Homo sapiens: one gene and its partner. The protein of the gene in region 1 interacts with the protein of each later gene in a pairwise test. Each region holds a gene or a part of one and is shown on either strand. Other genes may lie near its edges.

Region 1 (7,021 bases):
GGAAGCAGACTCTGAGATGGAGAAGAGTGTGCATGGTGTTTATTAAGAACTATACTTAGGATCAAGATTTGGAGAAGAGGAGAAGGGGGCAGGAATGGGTTTAGTGGCAGCCCCAGTTGGCCAACAGGGAGTTCTGGGGCCAGAATGACCCTTGAGAGTTGCCCCAGGTTGGGCTGTGATGACCTAGTCTTTATATCAGGGATCAGCAAGTTATGGCCTATAGGCCAAACCCAGGTTGCCACCTATTTTTTAACTAAAGTTTTATTGGAACACAGCCACACCCATCATGTACATGTCATCTGTGGCTGCTTTCATGATACATTAGCAGAGCTGAGTAGTTGGGACAGACTGCAAGGCTGGCAAAGCCTAAAATATTTAGGATCTGCCCTTGATGGAAGTTTGGCAGGCCCTGTTATGTTCCCTCATTGATCAGTTGCTGAATGGACAGTCTCTGACCTCTGTGGCCTCGGCTGCGCTGGAGGGTCCCCTTCTAAGGTGCCTTCCTTGCTCGAGGCTCCTTGGCCTTGTTCTCCAAGGACATCTCTTCTTCCTGGGTTTCTCCACGTGGCACAGTGGTTTGGCATCGTCGTACTTCTTGCATCTTACCTGAGGGCTTCAGGAGGTGGGACCTGGAGGCCCCCAGTCCATGAAAAGCCACAGCAGGGCTGGCAAAATCACTTGTGCCATTGGTCAAAGTGATCATGGGGCCTGCCCAGATTCAAGAGATGGAGCCACAGATGCCGCCCACTGCCTGAAGGAGGATGGCACAATCACGGTGCAGAAGAGCATGAGGATGAGATGCTGTCAGACCGTCTTCGGAAAAATGTGGAACACCATGGCAGGCCAGGTGGCTGCTCGGCAGTGCCGTGTCAATCCCAGCTCACCCAGGTCACCGCTGCAGTGCCTGTCCCTCCCCAACTCCACCCACGGTCCCTGACATCACGTGGGGAGGGAGTTTGAGATGGCCATGGTGGGAATGTGACACCTCGGGAATGGGCTCTACCCACCCCAACGCCAAAGAACCTGCTGCACACCCCTGCTGCCATGGGAGGACTTCTGGTTTGAAGCCACATGGGAAGAAAGACAGCAGCATTTATTGAGCACTAAGGGTCGCTACATGTCCTGGAACCTCAGGATGACTCCGTAAGCTATGATGTTACCCTTTATTTTATAGAAGGGGAGTCAGAGGCTCAGCAAGGTTGGAGGCCCTGGCAGGATTTGAACCATGGTCCCCTCGTTTTTGCCATCCTGCCTCACAGAAGACGGAGCTGGCAGGAGAAGGAGATCCTGGGTCTGAAGAAAGCTTAGGTTGGCAGGGAGGGAGAGAAAGCTGGCCAGAGAAGAGCGGGCAAAGCCTGAGGCCAGGGCAGCATGGGGTTGCCAGAAGGCTGGACAGTGGAGTCCCTGGAAAGGACTCAGGGCCAGCAGACTGCGCCAGCTGTGTGGGTGCTGGAAGATTCACCCCAACCAGGCAGCCAAACTCCTGACGTTTCTCATTGTCTGAAAAATGCATCTCTGTACTCTAAGACAACACAAGCAGAATGCGAGTGAGGTGGGCTCGGGAGGCCCTGAAGAGGGCCACGGAGAGAAAGCCGGCGGCTGGGCACCACATTCACAGCAGAAGTTTCAGTTCCTTCCCCTCACCTTCTTCCTGGGAAGCACAGTGGTTAGGCTCAACCAATGGACCAGTTTTAGGAGGAGGAGCGGGCAGGAAGGGGCTTTCATATTGGATCCTGTAGGAAGCAGTGGTATGCTACAGGGGTGACAGTGGCCTTCTTTATAACAACACTCGTTCCCGCAAGCTGGACCTTACCCACGTGCCAGCCTTGCCAGTTACACATGTCTATTACCTTTCATCCTCATAACCTTCAAGGGAAGAGGTCTTATGACTCCTCTTTGGGGAAATGAGGCTCAAGAGAAGGGGTAACCTTCCGGGTTTCAGGGTGAGCGCGTGGCAGAAGTTAAGACTTGGACTGGATGCAGGCACTTGACTTCTCCACATCACGTGGCCACGGTGCCTGAGTCAGCCCAGTGGTGCGGGGCGCCCCAGAGAGCACAGAAGCCAGGGCTGGAGACCCAGGTGTGATGGGAGAGCTTTCTTTGGGTGAGGTTGGTTCACAATCTCCCACTTTTTCCCCCCTATAGTTGAAGGATTTTCTCTCCCCGTTGTTTGTTTTAAGAATAAGATGCAAAAGTGAGAAGCGGGAGGCCTTGCCTTGTTCCGTGGGCAGACAGTGTGGGGGCTGTGAGGCCAAGGACACCTGGGAGGGGAGAGGGTGGGGGCAGACTGCATCTCCCAAGAGCAGGGTGGGGAGTGCAGGGAAGGGTCAGGAGGAGAGCAAGGCCACTGCTGAGGCAGGGTCCATGTAGGACACCTTTCGCTTGGACTCCTGGATGTCCTGGCTGGGCCCAGGCCCTGCTGTGTCCCCTGGAGGATAGGGGAGGCCTGTGGACTGCTCACAGGAGGGTGTGGCTACCTCTGCCAGGCCCCTGGGGATAGGAGAGTCACTCCACCATCCCCGTAAACCAGTGGGAGGCCCTGCAGCAGGAGCGTGGAATTAAGACGTGGGAAAATGGTCTCAGTTTTTCAGGTGCTTGTTAAAGATGCTGAGTTTTCTGGTCACCATTCTTGGAAGCCCTCACACAGCAGATTGAAAGTGAGGCTCAGAATCTTCATTTTTAAAGCATCCTCAAATAATTCTGATACCCATGGACTCTAGACCGTGCTAAGGAAAACACTGACCTGGAGGGTGAAGGCATGTGGGATCTGAAACTTTTAAGAAAACAGCTTTTTTGTCATTCTTATCTGATCTTATGAGCACCAATTTTCTTACTCTGAATGGATGTAGATGTGGAAGGTATAATGTTTGGGGAGCGCTCTTGCCCTAAGAGAGATAATGAATACAGCAGTTTGTGCATAATTGCACTTAATTATTATGTTGTGAATATATGGTTAAACTTGATAAAGATTAACTTATAAAAACTCTTATTAAAACTTCCCTGTTATTTGCCATTCATCGCTATCGTGGAGTTTTTAGGGGAGCTTGTTCGTCCATCCACCTGATAAAGTTTTGAATGCATGCTGTGTGCCTGGCTCTGGCGGGGAGTGGGGCATACAGCAGTAGCCAATAGCTGGGGTGGGAGGTTCTGACCACTCCCCTCCACCCACTTACAGTCTGGACAGAGAAATAAACTAAAAAAATCCGCAACCAACAACATACATTTTGCTTTTTTTGTAAATGTATTCTTTTTTTTTGTTTTTTTGAGACAGTCTCGCTCTGTCACCAGGCTGAAGGGCAGTGGCACAATCTTGGCTCACTGCCACCTCCGTCTCCCAGGTTCAAGTGATTCTCCTGCCTCAGTCTCCCGAGTAGCTGAGACTACAGGCACACGTCACCATGCCCAGTTGTTTTTTGTATTTTTAGTAGAGACGGTGTTTCTCCATGTTGGCCAGGATGGTCTCGATCTCTTGACCTTGTGATCCGCCCGCCTCAGCCTCCCAAAGTGCTGGGATTACAGGTGTGAGCCATTGCGCCCAGGCTACTAAATGTGATTTTTATAAATGTGTTAGTATTTACATACAAACCAATACTAGACAAGAGAGGAAAAAACCCTTATCAGACCATATATTGTGAATTTGAGTTTTAAAGAATTAATTAAACATGCAAGTTATGAACTTTTCAGGTACTCTCTAATTGAAATAAGAAGATATACACTATAAATTCTGTACAAAGCTGGCTTGCAGATTTTTTTCTCGTCATTAGAGTTAAGACATCACCTCTAAGTATGTTTAATTAAAATGTTTTCAAGATACACTGATATTTTCTTCACAGCATTTCATCTCTGCCCCTCCTCTCATTTGTGAACACGGAACCTTAGGAAAATGGTTCCCAAGTGCTTTCAAGCACAAATGTGTCTGAATGCAGAATTGTCAACAACCTGCACAGAGAATTCTGAATCCATGCTTGGCGGTTTCAGCATAGTCTTTATGCTGTTTTCTTGTCTGAAGTTTGAGCGCACCAATAGTCTATGAGAGAAGGAATCAATATGAAACAGAGTTGTTACCAATAACCTCTGCTTCCGGGTTCTCAGCGTTGCAGGTGGCGAGCTGTTTGACTTCTTAGCTGAAAAGGAATCTTTAACTGAAGAGGAAGCAACTGAATTTCTCAAACAAATTCTTAATGGTGTTTACTACCTGCACTCCCTTCAAATCGCCCACTTTGATCTTAAGGTACGTTTCAAAGTGTAAGCCAGATAGAAGCTTGTGCAGATCACAGCCTTGGTTGTTTCTCTGCTAAGAAAAATTGAGGCATCTGAAAGAGTTACATGATTTTCCTGTACCAGTTTAACAAACAGAAATATCACTATAAATCGGCAAGCATAGGATACATGCCCCCCACTGGGATGGCTAACCTTTTTGTGGGATAGAGGCTTAATGATAATTGATTACATTCTGGAATTCTTGGTAAAGAATACAAGGGGTCTTAGGAGCCAGGTTTTTTAGTAAGGGGGCTGCTCTAGCCAGCAGCTAGTGACTGGCACTGGTTCCTTCTGTGGCTCTGGGCATGTTAAGATAGAAAATGTGTTGAGTGATGCAAAGGCGTATGGCCTGACTCTGTCACCAATAATCAAGCAAACCAAACTCAGATTGGCTAATTGGGGCATTTGCCTGGCTGGATGCAGGACGCTGTTGGAGATGAAAGGGCATGTAAGCCGTCCTCCCAGCCATGACAGAGGTGTGGTCTCTTTGGGAAGGGAAGACACGACAGGAGCAATAGGAAGTGGCAATGGTGGGAAGTTCCAGTTCAAGGCAGGAAGAGGTGGTCTGGTAAAGCAGCGCGTGCTCCATCCGAGTAGTTGATTCAGACCAGTAGAGCTGGGATAGGATTTCAGAGGAGGGAGGATTTTCCCCATTCTTCTGTAGCAGAGCTGTCAATGTCCCATTCATGTCCCTGCTGGCCCCACAAACAATGTGCAAAAGCACACACTCATATACATCCTAACAGAGGGCTTGTTGCAAATACCTGTGACTCTTCCTGGCATCTTGTTTCTGGCCCTGGGAGCTGGAAATGCAAAAGAAAAATGTCCACAGAAGCAACTGTCAGCCATGGAGGATGGAGAAATGGTGGATAAAGACCCCAGCTCCCTCCTGCTACAATTGGAATAACACTGAGTTCTCCTTTTCCTCTCCCATTCCCCCAGTTACCCCCACTTGATAGGACACCTCGTAGCAGCTTCCTTCTGTTTCCTGTATCTCCTTTCTCTACCAAGTGTTTCCTGGTGTCCCCTCCCACATAACCCACTTGCATCCGAATCCTTGTCTCAGGCCTGCTTCAGGGAGAACCTAGAGCAAGACATGTATTTTCCTGCTGTTCTCTTCCAACCACCCTTTCTTCCCTACTTTTTGGCCTTTTTTTTTTTTTTGGAGAGAAGAACTATTCTGCCATCTTGTCCTCAGCATAACATATCATAGCTTTTTATTTATCTCTCTCTTTTTTTCAAGCCTGAGAACATAATGCTTTTGGATAGAAATGTCCCCAAACCTCGGATCAAGATCATTGACTTTGGGTTGGCCCATAAAATTGACTTTGGAAATGAATTTAAAAACATATTTGGGACTCCAGAGTTTGTCGGTAAGTTTCTTTGCTCCTGTGGTCATTTACGTCTCATAAACATTATTCTGGCAAACCTCCCCTGCTAGAAGATTCTTTCCCTGCTACATGTTCCTGGTTGTTGCATGAAGATAGAATCGGTTAGTTTGCTTCCTCCCAAGCTAAATGAGTGTTTGTTTCCTCTTAGCTCCTGAGATAGTCAACTATGAACCTCTTGGTCTTGAGGCAGATATGTGGTAAGGAGTATGTCCTTGGTGTTGTTTGCTTTCTGATTTATTTGACTATTCTTCTGACATGTTTTTTTGTTTGTTTTGTGTTGTTTTTAGGAGTATCGGGGTAATAACCTATATCCTGTAAGTATCAGAATTCACAACTCATACTCTCTTCTCTTCTATGAGACCATAGGTTTAATTAACCATTAAATGTGCTGTGTTGATCTCTTCAGCTTATGCATGCTTTTGATGCAAACATATTCATTTTACACCCCCAAAACATGTTTAGTTTATACTAATTAAACATGTTCTCCTAATTTGAAATGAGTCATCAGAAACTGTAGCATAATCACTGAAAGAAAGCATAGCTGTCCATCACTGCCGAGAAAACAGGTTTCCTTTAAACTACCAGACGCTGTTCCAGATTAACTTGTTAAGTGAATCCTTTTGCCTGAAGCTGAAGCATTTGCTCCTGACAGTTAAAGCCCTATGAAATATAATCAAACTGTGACTATTCGAGCACCAGATTATAATCTTATTCCACACTCCAGATGTTATAGGAGCAAAATGACAACACCAAGGGGTCATCATTAATGTTCTATGCCCAACTTTATTTTTAACAGCCTAAGTGGGGCCTCCCCATTTCTTGGAGACACTAAGCAAGAAACGTTAGCAAATGTATCCGCTGTCAACTACGAATTTGAGGATGAATACTTCAGTAATACCAGTGCCCTAGCCAAAGATTTCATAAGAAGACTTCTGGTCAAGGATCCAAAGTGAGTGTCCACGTTCCTGAAAGGTGCTTGGCCACGGCCTCAGCCAGCCCAGAGCCTGTGTCTGTTCCATGCACAGGGCCACGTTCCTCAGACCCTGCTTGCTTCATCTGCCAAAGGGCAGCATGCCATGTGAAACGCTTCAGAAAATGCAAGCAGGGCCCTCTGCCCCCACTCAGTCAGTCCCTGCAGGCACAGTGAAATAATCACAAAAAGACCGATGTTGTTTTTGGCTTTCTTCCCTGAACTGCATTTTCCACAGTATCTGCTTGGCAGGCCCAGCCAGCATGAAAACAACCTTAGTATTTGCTGCTATGGTCACAGCATTTTTTTTCTTCTCCCCCTCCCCTCAAGGAAGAGAATGACAATTCAAGATAGTTTGCAGCATCCCTGGATCAAGGTGAGTTGCATATTACGAAACTGT
Region 2 (6,911 bases), on another chromosome or scaffold:
AAAACCTCTGCCTTCTGGGTTCAAGCGATTCTCGTGCCTCGGCCTCCCGAGTAGTTGGGATTAACAGAGCACGATACCATGTCTAGCTAATTTTTGTATTGCTAGTAGGGATGGGGTTTCGCCATGTTGGCCAGGCTGGTCTTGAACTCCTGACCTCAAGTGATCCGCCCGCCTCCGCCTCCCAAAGTGCTGGCATTACAGGCGGGAGCCACTGTGCCCGGCCGAAGAGATTTAGAATAGTACCTGGCATATAGTAAGCACTCAACCTTAGCTCTGATAATATTATTACAAAGAGATGGTAAAGCGTTAAGGACTTCAGCTTTAGGCGCTTCCCTTCTCCAGGGTCCAGGTTTTTGGGGTCCGTTCTGGACCGAACGACTCAGGGGAGGCACCGTGAACTCATTCCCAAGCCTTCCCACTCAAGATCCTGCAAACGGAGTCGTCTGAGTGCCACTTCCCCTGACAACCCGGGACAAGGACTCTGTCAGGGCGGCCCCAGGCGGGGTGGGGCCAGGACAATTCTCCCATCGCCGGAGGAGGGAGACTGGCGGCCACGGGGAGGCGTAAGCGGCAGCGCGCCGCCTGGTGGCACCTTCGCGCACACGGTCCCGACGGAGCGGGAGGCGTCAACCCCAAGCCGGCAGCCACTCCTGCCGGGAGCCCCTACAGCTGCTTTTAAATCGTAATTGTTATCAAATAGGCGGTTTTTATACAGCCAGATTATTGGCCTTATTATTCTTCTTAATACTGTGAAGTAATTATTATTCCTGTTTTACAGTTGAGGAAACTGACGCTGGGAAAGTTTCAGTAACTGGCTTAAGATCCGCCAGCAGGTAAGAGCAGCCCCCAGGTTTAGGGCCACAGCCCTCCAGATCCAGAACTCTTTCCTACACACTCCTGTGGTTTGAGACAAGTGATGGTAGCCGCTGGAAGCATCTGCAGTCCCCACCAAGGGTGAGAACTGGCTCTGGGACTGATTTCAAAGCAGATCTATGCCACAAAGCCTGCCCTACTTTCAGCCTCAGAACCCCCAGACCCCAGGAAATAGAGGGGAGGGGAGGGTGGGGCTCACATAGCAACTCTTAGGCCCTTTGACCATCAACCCCTTTCCCCCCAGCCTTATTGATGTACCCACTCAACCAAGGTTGATTGCATCCCTGCTATGCCAGAAACTGTCTTCAGTGCTAGATATATCATGGGGAACAGGGAACACAGGGCACCTGACTTCAAGCAACTCACTGCTTCGTCCTCATGCTTAACTCCCAGCAGGATGCCTTTGCTGTGAGGCCCATGGCACTCGGTTTGGGAACACCCTGGCAAATCTTAATCCTGCTATCCTAATGTGTCATCCCCCAGGCAGGGACCCTGCCCATTCTTCACCCATCCCGGGGAAAGGTATGGCTCAGGGGGAGTCTGACTCCCTCTGAAGCCCCTTGCCTGGCCTCAACTGACAGCCTGCACTCTTGAGATGCCAGGGCTGGAGAGGAACCACATCTGCAACTGCTCAGCTGCAGGTGGCTAGAGAAGGCTCAGAGACTTGGTACAGGAGCAGGGGCACAGAGCAGTTACAGAGAGATTCCCAACATGCAAAATCCCATGCCCTGATGCTGGAGTCCTGGAGGGAGAGCAGGGCCCGGGACCTCCCAAGAGTATATTTCAAGAGTTGAGAGAGTGGTTAGGCTGAGAAGGGAAGTGGGGCAGGGACTGGCAGGAGAGGGGGTAATGTCTTCCTTTTGCTTGCCCCCATCTCCAGTCCCCCTTCTCTCCACCCAGGAATTAAAGCCGTGAAACCTGATACTTGGACTAGAAGGGCCTGCTGGGTACACTTTACCACCTAAACAGCAAAGTTCCAAGGGGTGGAACTTTTTAGAAAAATCTCCAATACCCCACTGGCCTGAAGGAGAGAGAGAAAGAGGTTGGGGAGAGAGAGAGAACATGCTGTGGTCTCTGCATGCTGCCCGTCTCTGCTGAGGTCCCTGCTGAGCTCTCCAGCACAGGCACAACCTTGACCATGTGCCTGCATCCAGGGGATGACCGTCAGATGTGGGTCTTGGCACAGGCGTGCCTGTATGTGTTTCCTGGCAGTAGTTAAGTATCCAAATATCTATTTGTCTTGGGAGTCATCTGCCTATTTGTGTTTTTAGTTGTGTGCGCCTGTGTGTTTGCTTTTTTTAGGCATACATCTTTGGTATGTGGGTGTCTCTGGAGTCGGGTGCCTATTTGTAGGTGTGATGTTTATGGGAGGTGAAACATTGCACCTGTTGTCTTTGTTGTATGTTTTCGTGTGTGTACCTTTGCAGGTGTGTATGGGTGGGTAGTTGTGTGTGTGCATGTGTATTTGCAAGGTGGAGTTGGTTTGGGTGTGCTGAGCTGTTGACTGTCTCATCCACTGCCCTTGCTAGGGCTGTCAGAGGCCAAGCTAAGCAACCTACCTTTGCCCACAGCAGCCTTTCTCAATTGATGGAAGTTCTTCCCCCAGGGAGTCCCAGTCCACCTGTTGCCACCCTCCTGATGCTGGGTGCCCAGTCAGAGAGGGTTAGGGAGATGTGCTGATGGCATGCACGACCTCCCCTAGATACTCCAAGACCCCGGCTTGTGAGGGGAGTGTGTGTGGAGAGGGTACTAGTCCTGCCTTCACCTCACCTCTGGGGAAACAGCTAGGACAGTCCCCTTCGCACAGCCCAATCCAGCCCCAGGGAAGGTGTTCAAGTGAGGCTCCCCCGTTTAGAGGGTTTCTTTCCAATCCCATCTCCCCCATCCCCTTTGCTCAGTCACTCAGTCACTCCAAGCAGTGTGATCTCCGGCAGGTGGCTTTACACCTCTGTGCCTCAGGTCCTTCATCTGTAAAATGGGATGTAAATGGTGCTTACTTCAGAGGGTTGTGAGAATTAACTGACATGATGCATACAGAGTGCTTAGCCCTGTGCCTGGCACAGGGAAGGTCTTTGCCTATGTTAGCTGATCCGCTCGTTCTGATCTCTCTGGGTTTCAATCCCAAGACACTGCCCATCCTTCAAACCTCACCTGTCCCCACGTGCTCCTTGGACCACCTTTGGGTGGTCAGGACTTTCCCCCTGGAATCAGACTGGCTGGGAGGGGAGAATCTTGGAAAGAGATTATTGACACTTGCACTGCAATTTCCACACAAGTTTTAAAATTTAATTCTATACCCCCTTATGAAATAGTTATCCTTTTCCTCCATTTTACAGATGATGATGAAGGGAGCAATAGAATTGTTAAGTAACTTGTTCAAGGTCACACAGTAAATAAGGGGCAGAGTCCAAGTTTACACTGAGCCAAAAATGGCTGTCCCACTGTCAGGTAGGAGGCTAGTTTACAACAACGCAGGATCAGAGTGCTGGAGGGGTTTCCAGGGGTCTGGTTAACAGTTCTGCCGGAGATCATACAGACAAGCAGAGCCAGCCAGGATGATCCTAATCTATACCCAGCTTCATATCGCTGTAAGCCCCCGCGTAACCAGGACTTGGGTGTTCTCATTTTGGGAGCCTTTTTTTTGGAAAGACCCCCACATGTGGAAGGCAGAGCGCATACTACAGACAGGGGAGCCAAAAGTGAGAGTCCTATGTTTAATCAGAGGAGAAAGCTGACATGGCCAAGCCAAATGAAGGCGCAAAGCCAGATTTCCTTAATTTGGGGGAGCGAAAATTGGGCCGCCTCCACGTCCAGCCATTCTCCAGCGGCCGGGTTTTTCAAAACGCTGCGCCCAGCGTCTCGCGAGGACCCTCCCCCCGGGTCCCCCAGCTCTGCCGCGGCCGCGCCCAGATGGCCGTCGGATCCCCCCTCAAGGTCCCCCTGTCGGCTCCGCCCTCGGTCGCCCAGGCCCCGCCCCGGCCGCGCGCGGTCCCCTCGGTTGGCGAACTCACTCCGGCGAGCGAGCGGCGGCGCTCGGCATTGTGGCAGGCGGCTGGGGCCGGCTAGGGCGCCGGAGCCGCACGCAGCCGCGGGGCTCCGAGAGGCGCGCACTGGGGCTGGGACTGCGCGGCGCCGCCGCTGCGAGCGCCACTGAGCGGTCGCGCAACTTCGGAGGCACAGCGCCGGAGCCAGGCGAGCGCTCAGAGACCCGGAGCCAGAGGGGCGCGCCGGAGCCTCGTTCGAGAGCCGGCGCCAGGCACCCACCGCGCTCCGAGTGCCAGGCGGCCCTCCGCGCAGCGTGGCTTCCGCTGCCCCCACGGAAGGCACGGGCTGGCGCTGCCGGGCGCCGGGGAGGACGGCGAGGAGGAGGCGGCGGCGGCGGAGACGGCGGCGGCGAGACTGGGGCCAGGGAGACAGCCCTGGGGGAGAGGCGCCCGAACCAGGCCGCGGGAGCATGGGGGCCCGGAGCGGAGCTCGGGGCGCGCTGCTGCTGGCACTGCTGCTCTGCTGGGACCCGAGGCTGAGCCAAGCAGGTAGGAAGCGATCGGGTCTGGGGGCGCGGGGCTAGGGGACCCTTGCGCCTCACTCTGTCCTGAAGTTGAGGTGGTCTTTCGTCGCATCGATGCGCGCAGGAAAAGCGGCAAGGGCGCCCAAGTTAGAATGTAGATTTTACTGCCTCCCAAAGTGGGCAATGGCGCATCCACATCGCGGGAGCGGGGAGCAGGGAAGGGGCTTCACAGTAAGCTGAAAGGTCCCTGCTCGCTCCTGAAAGGGATCCCTTCTTCTCCCTGGAAGGGGTGTAGGAGTCAGGGTCTGAGTCTCCGGGAGGATCCGCCTCCTGGGGACGCCCGGCTCTCCGCGCGCCTGGCATCCGCCCCGAAAAAGAACATTGGCTACATAAGCAAGGTGTGCGCTCGCTGCCGTACGCCGGTAACTTACTAGTCTGGTCCCGGCTCGCCTAGGCTCTTACGCGCTATAGGGACAGCAATCTGCAGACTAGAGGGAGAGAGCGAAAAGACCTGCTGAACACAGGAAGCGCTTCGGTAGCCTCGGCAGGCCGGCTTGCAGGGCTCCTGAAGCGGGGAGGGCTAAGTCTTGCACACATAGCTTTCCCCGAGATCGCTGGGCCCGCAGGTCTGGAAGAATTATTATTATTATTATTATTATTATTATTATTAATTTTCTGAGTGTTGGAGAGTGTGTGTGTGTGTGTGTGTGTGTGTGTGTGTGTTGGATGCGGGTAGGGGTTCTTAGCGATCCTGCGGAGTTTCCTTTTAAATTGGTCACTGACATTCTCGCTGTCCGGGGAACAGACTAGGTGCGCTCTCCTTGGTACAGCGCCCGCTCTGGACCCACCAAGATGACTTCAGCGAACTGGTGGGCTCCGAAATAAAGTCCCTAACCCTCCTCTCTCGCCGTGGATGAATACGTTTCTCGCTCGTCCTGTAGCTGGACCCGGCGTCGCTGGCTGGGCTGCGTCTTCTCGGGGAGGCTGTGGACTGAATGGAGCCAGCCTCTCTCTGGTACCCGAACCCAAGCAAGTGGGCTGGCCACGGCTGCCGGGCGGCTCGGCTCCGGAGCCAGGTGGGGACGGGGCCTCCTGCACGGAGTCCTCTCTGAGTTGAGGCTGAGAATGGAGCAGGAAAACTGGAGCAGAAAGTGGACGAGATGACGCAGCCCTCCCCACCTCCTACCTCCTGCTGCGAAGTTGACATCCGCCCTTCCCCCCTCCATAGCCAAAGATTCCTCATTCTGGAATTAGTGATTCCCACGGCCAGGAGTGAGGGCTTGGCTTTAGCACATTCCCCACTTTTTTTTTTTTTTCTGGTGCAAGTCCTGTGCAGTAGAGTTACAACACTCAACCATTTGATCCAAGTTAATTATGATTTGGGCAGACTCTGGTATTTAAAGCAGTGTTTTGAAGTTGGAAGGTAATGATGGGGATGGGGAAGGCAGGCTGCTGAATGTCCAACCTTGTTTTAAAGGGTGCAGTTAGACGTGGGAGGTGCTTGGTTGGGGTGCTGGTTTCTGGTTGGAGGGGGTTTGAGGAGATGATTGAAGGGTAGGGTGAAGTCTCTGTAAATGGCACATGGGCAGGGTTGTGTCTTGGGAAGCTGCTTTTGTACCAGCAGGACAGTGGGATCAGGAATAAATACTTAGGTTACCAGGAATGAGGGGCTGCTGTAGGAGAAAGACAAGACTGGTTGGCCTATAGTTCTCTGGGTGGGTGGGCTTGGCCAAGAAGGCTGGGGGTGGCCTGCATTTCCTGCTTAACAAAGCATCCAGCCCCCACCTTCCCCAGAAGAAACCCCAGGCCCAGGGCTTTGATGGATTTGGGCACGAATGGTGCCCAGTCAGAAATGGCCTCTAATACCCGGCTTTGATTTCTCACCAGCGAGCAGAAGCGGTGTTGGAATTGTGCTCATTACTTAGTGCGGCAGTAGCTGCCTGCCCACCAGCCTGGAGAGGGGCCAACTGGTGGGGTCGGCCTGCAGCCTTCTCATTGCCCAGAATGTGTGGCCCTTAGAAACCTGCCTTCAGGAGGGAGAACATGTCCCTTCCTCCCACACAATCTTGTTTTTCTCTAATGCCACAGGCACAGAGCATCATTCTTTCAGAATGTTCTTTGGGTTTTTCCATTGGATCCTTCACAAGCTCCATTTCACTGATGGGGAAAATCAAGGCCAGAGTGTTGGCTTTCTCCAAATCTTGCCTTCACTTGGCCACAGATTGAAGACATGTGAAGGGCTCCTGTCCAATAGCCAGACTGATTCAAGCCCAGCAGACCCTCCCTCCTATTCTTATCCACCCACCCCTCTGCCATGAGACTCATAACAGACTGAGGCAGGCGAGGCTCTCTCTGCAAAGAGGGATCTTTACTGGGGGTGTCCAAGCTCCCCTCAAGTGGCAGGCACCTCTCTCTCCTTTTCCCCACCCCACCCCATCCCTGGTGAATATGGGAATGAGCTCCCTTTACAGCACTGAGAATATTTTTAAGCTGTAAAGTCTGATGCTGGAGAAATCAAAACTGGAACCAT

The links. Proteins that work in one complex are often made in the same cells at the same time.
Region 2: the proteins of DAPK1 (region 1) and UNC5B interact in a two-hybrid assay, tested with the Homo sapiens proteins (one study listed by BioGRID).

What each region holds. Positions count from the first base shown.
Region 1 is NC_000009.12:87,633,851-87,640,871, forward strand, and holds part of DAPK1 (death-associated protein kinase 1), read left to right. Parts: intron 1-4,092; coding exon 4,093-4,231; intron 4,232-5,503; coding exon 5,504-5,633; intron 5,634-5,799; coding exon 5,800-5,848; intron 5,849-5,938; coding exon 5,939-5,965; intron 5,966-6,447; coding exon 6,448-6,600; intron 6,601-6,951; coding exon 6,952-6,997; intron 6,998-7,021. UniProt on the Homo sapiens protein: Calcium/calmodulin-dependent serine/threonine kinase involved in multiple cellular signaling pathways that trigger cell survival, apoptosis, and autophagy.
Region 2 is NC_000010.11:71,208,659-71,215,569, forward strand, and holds the start of UNC5B (netrin receptor UNC5B isoform 1 precursor), read left to right. Parts: upstream 1-3,911; 5' UTR 3,912-4,327; coding exon 4,328-4,406; intron 4,407-6,911. UniProt on the Homo sapiens protein: Receptor for netrin required for axon guidance. Mediates axon repulsion of neuronal growth cones in the developing nervous system upon ligand binding.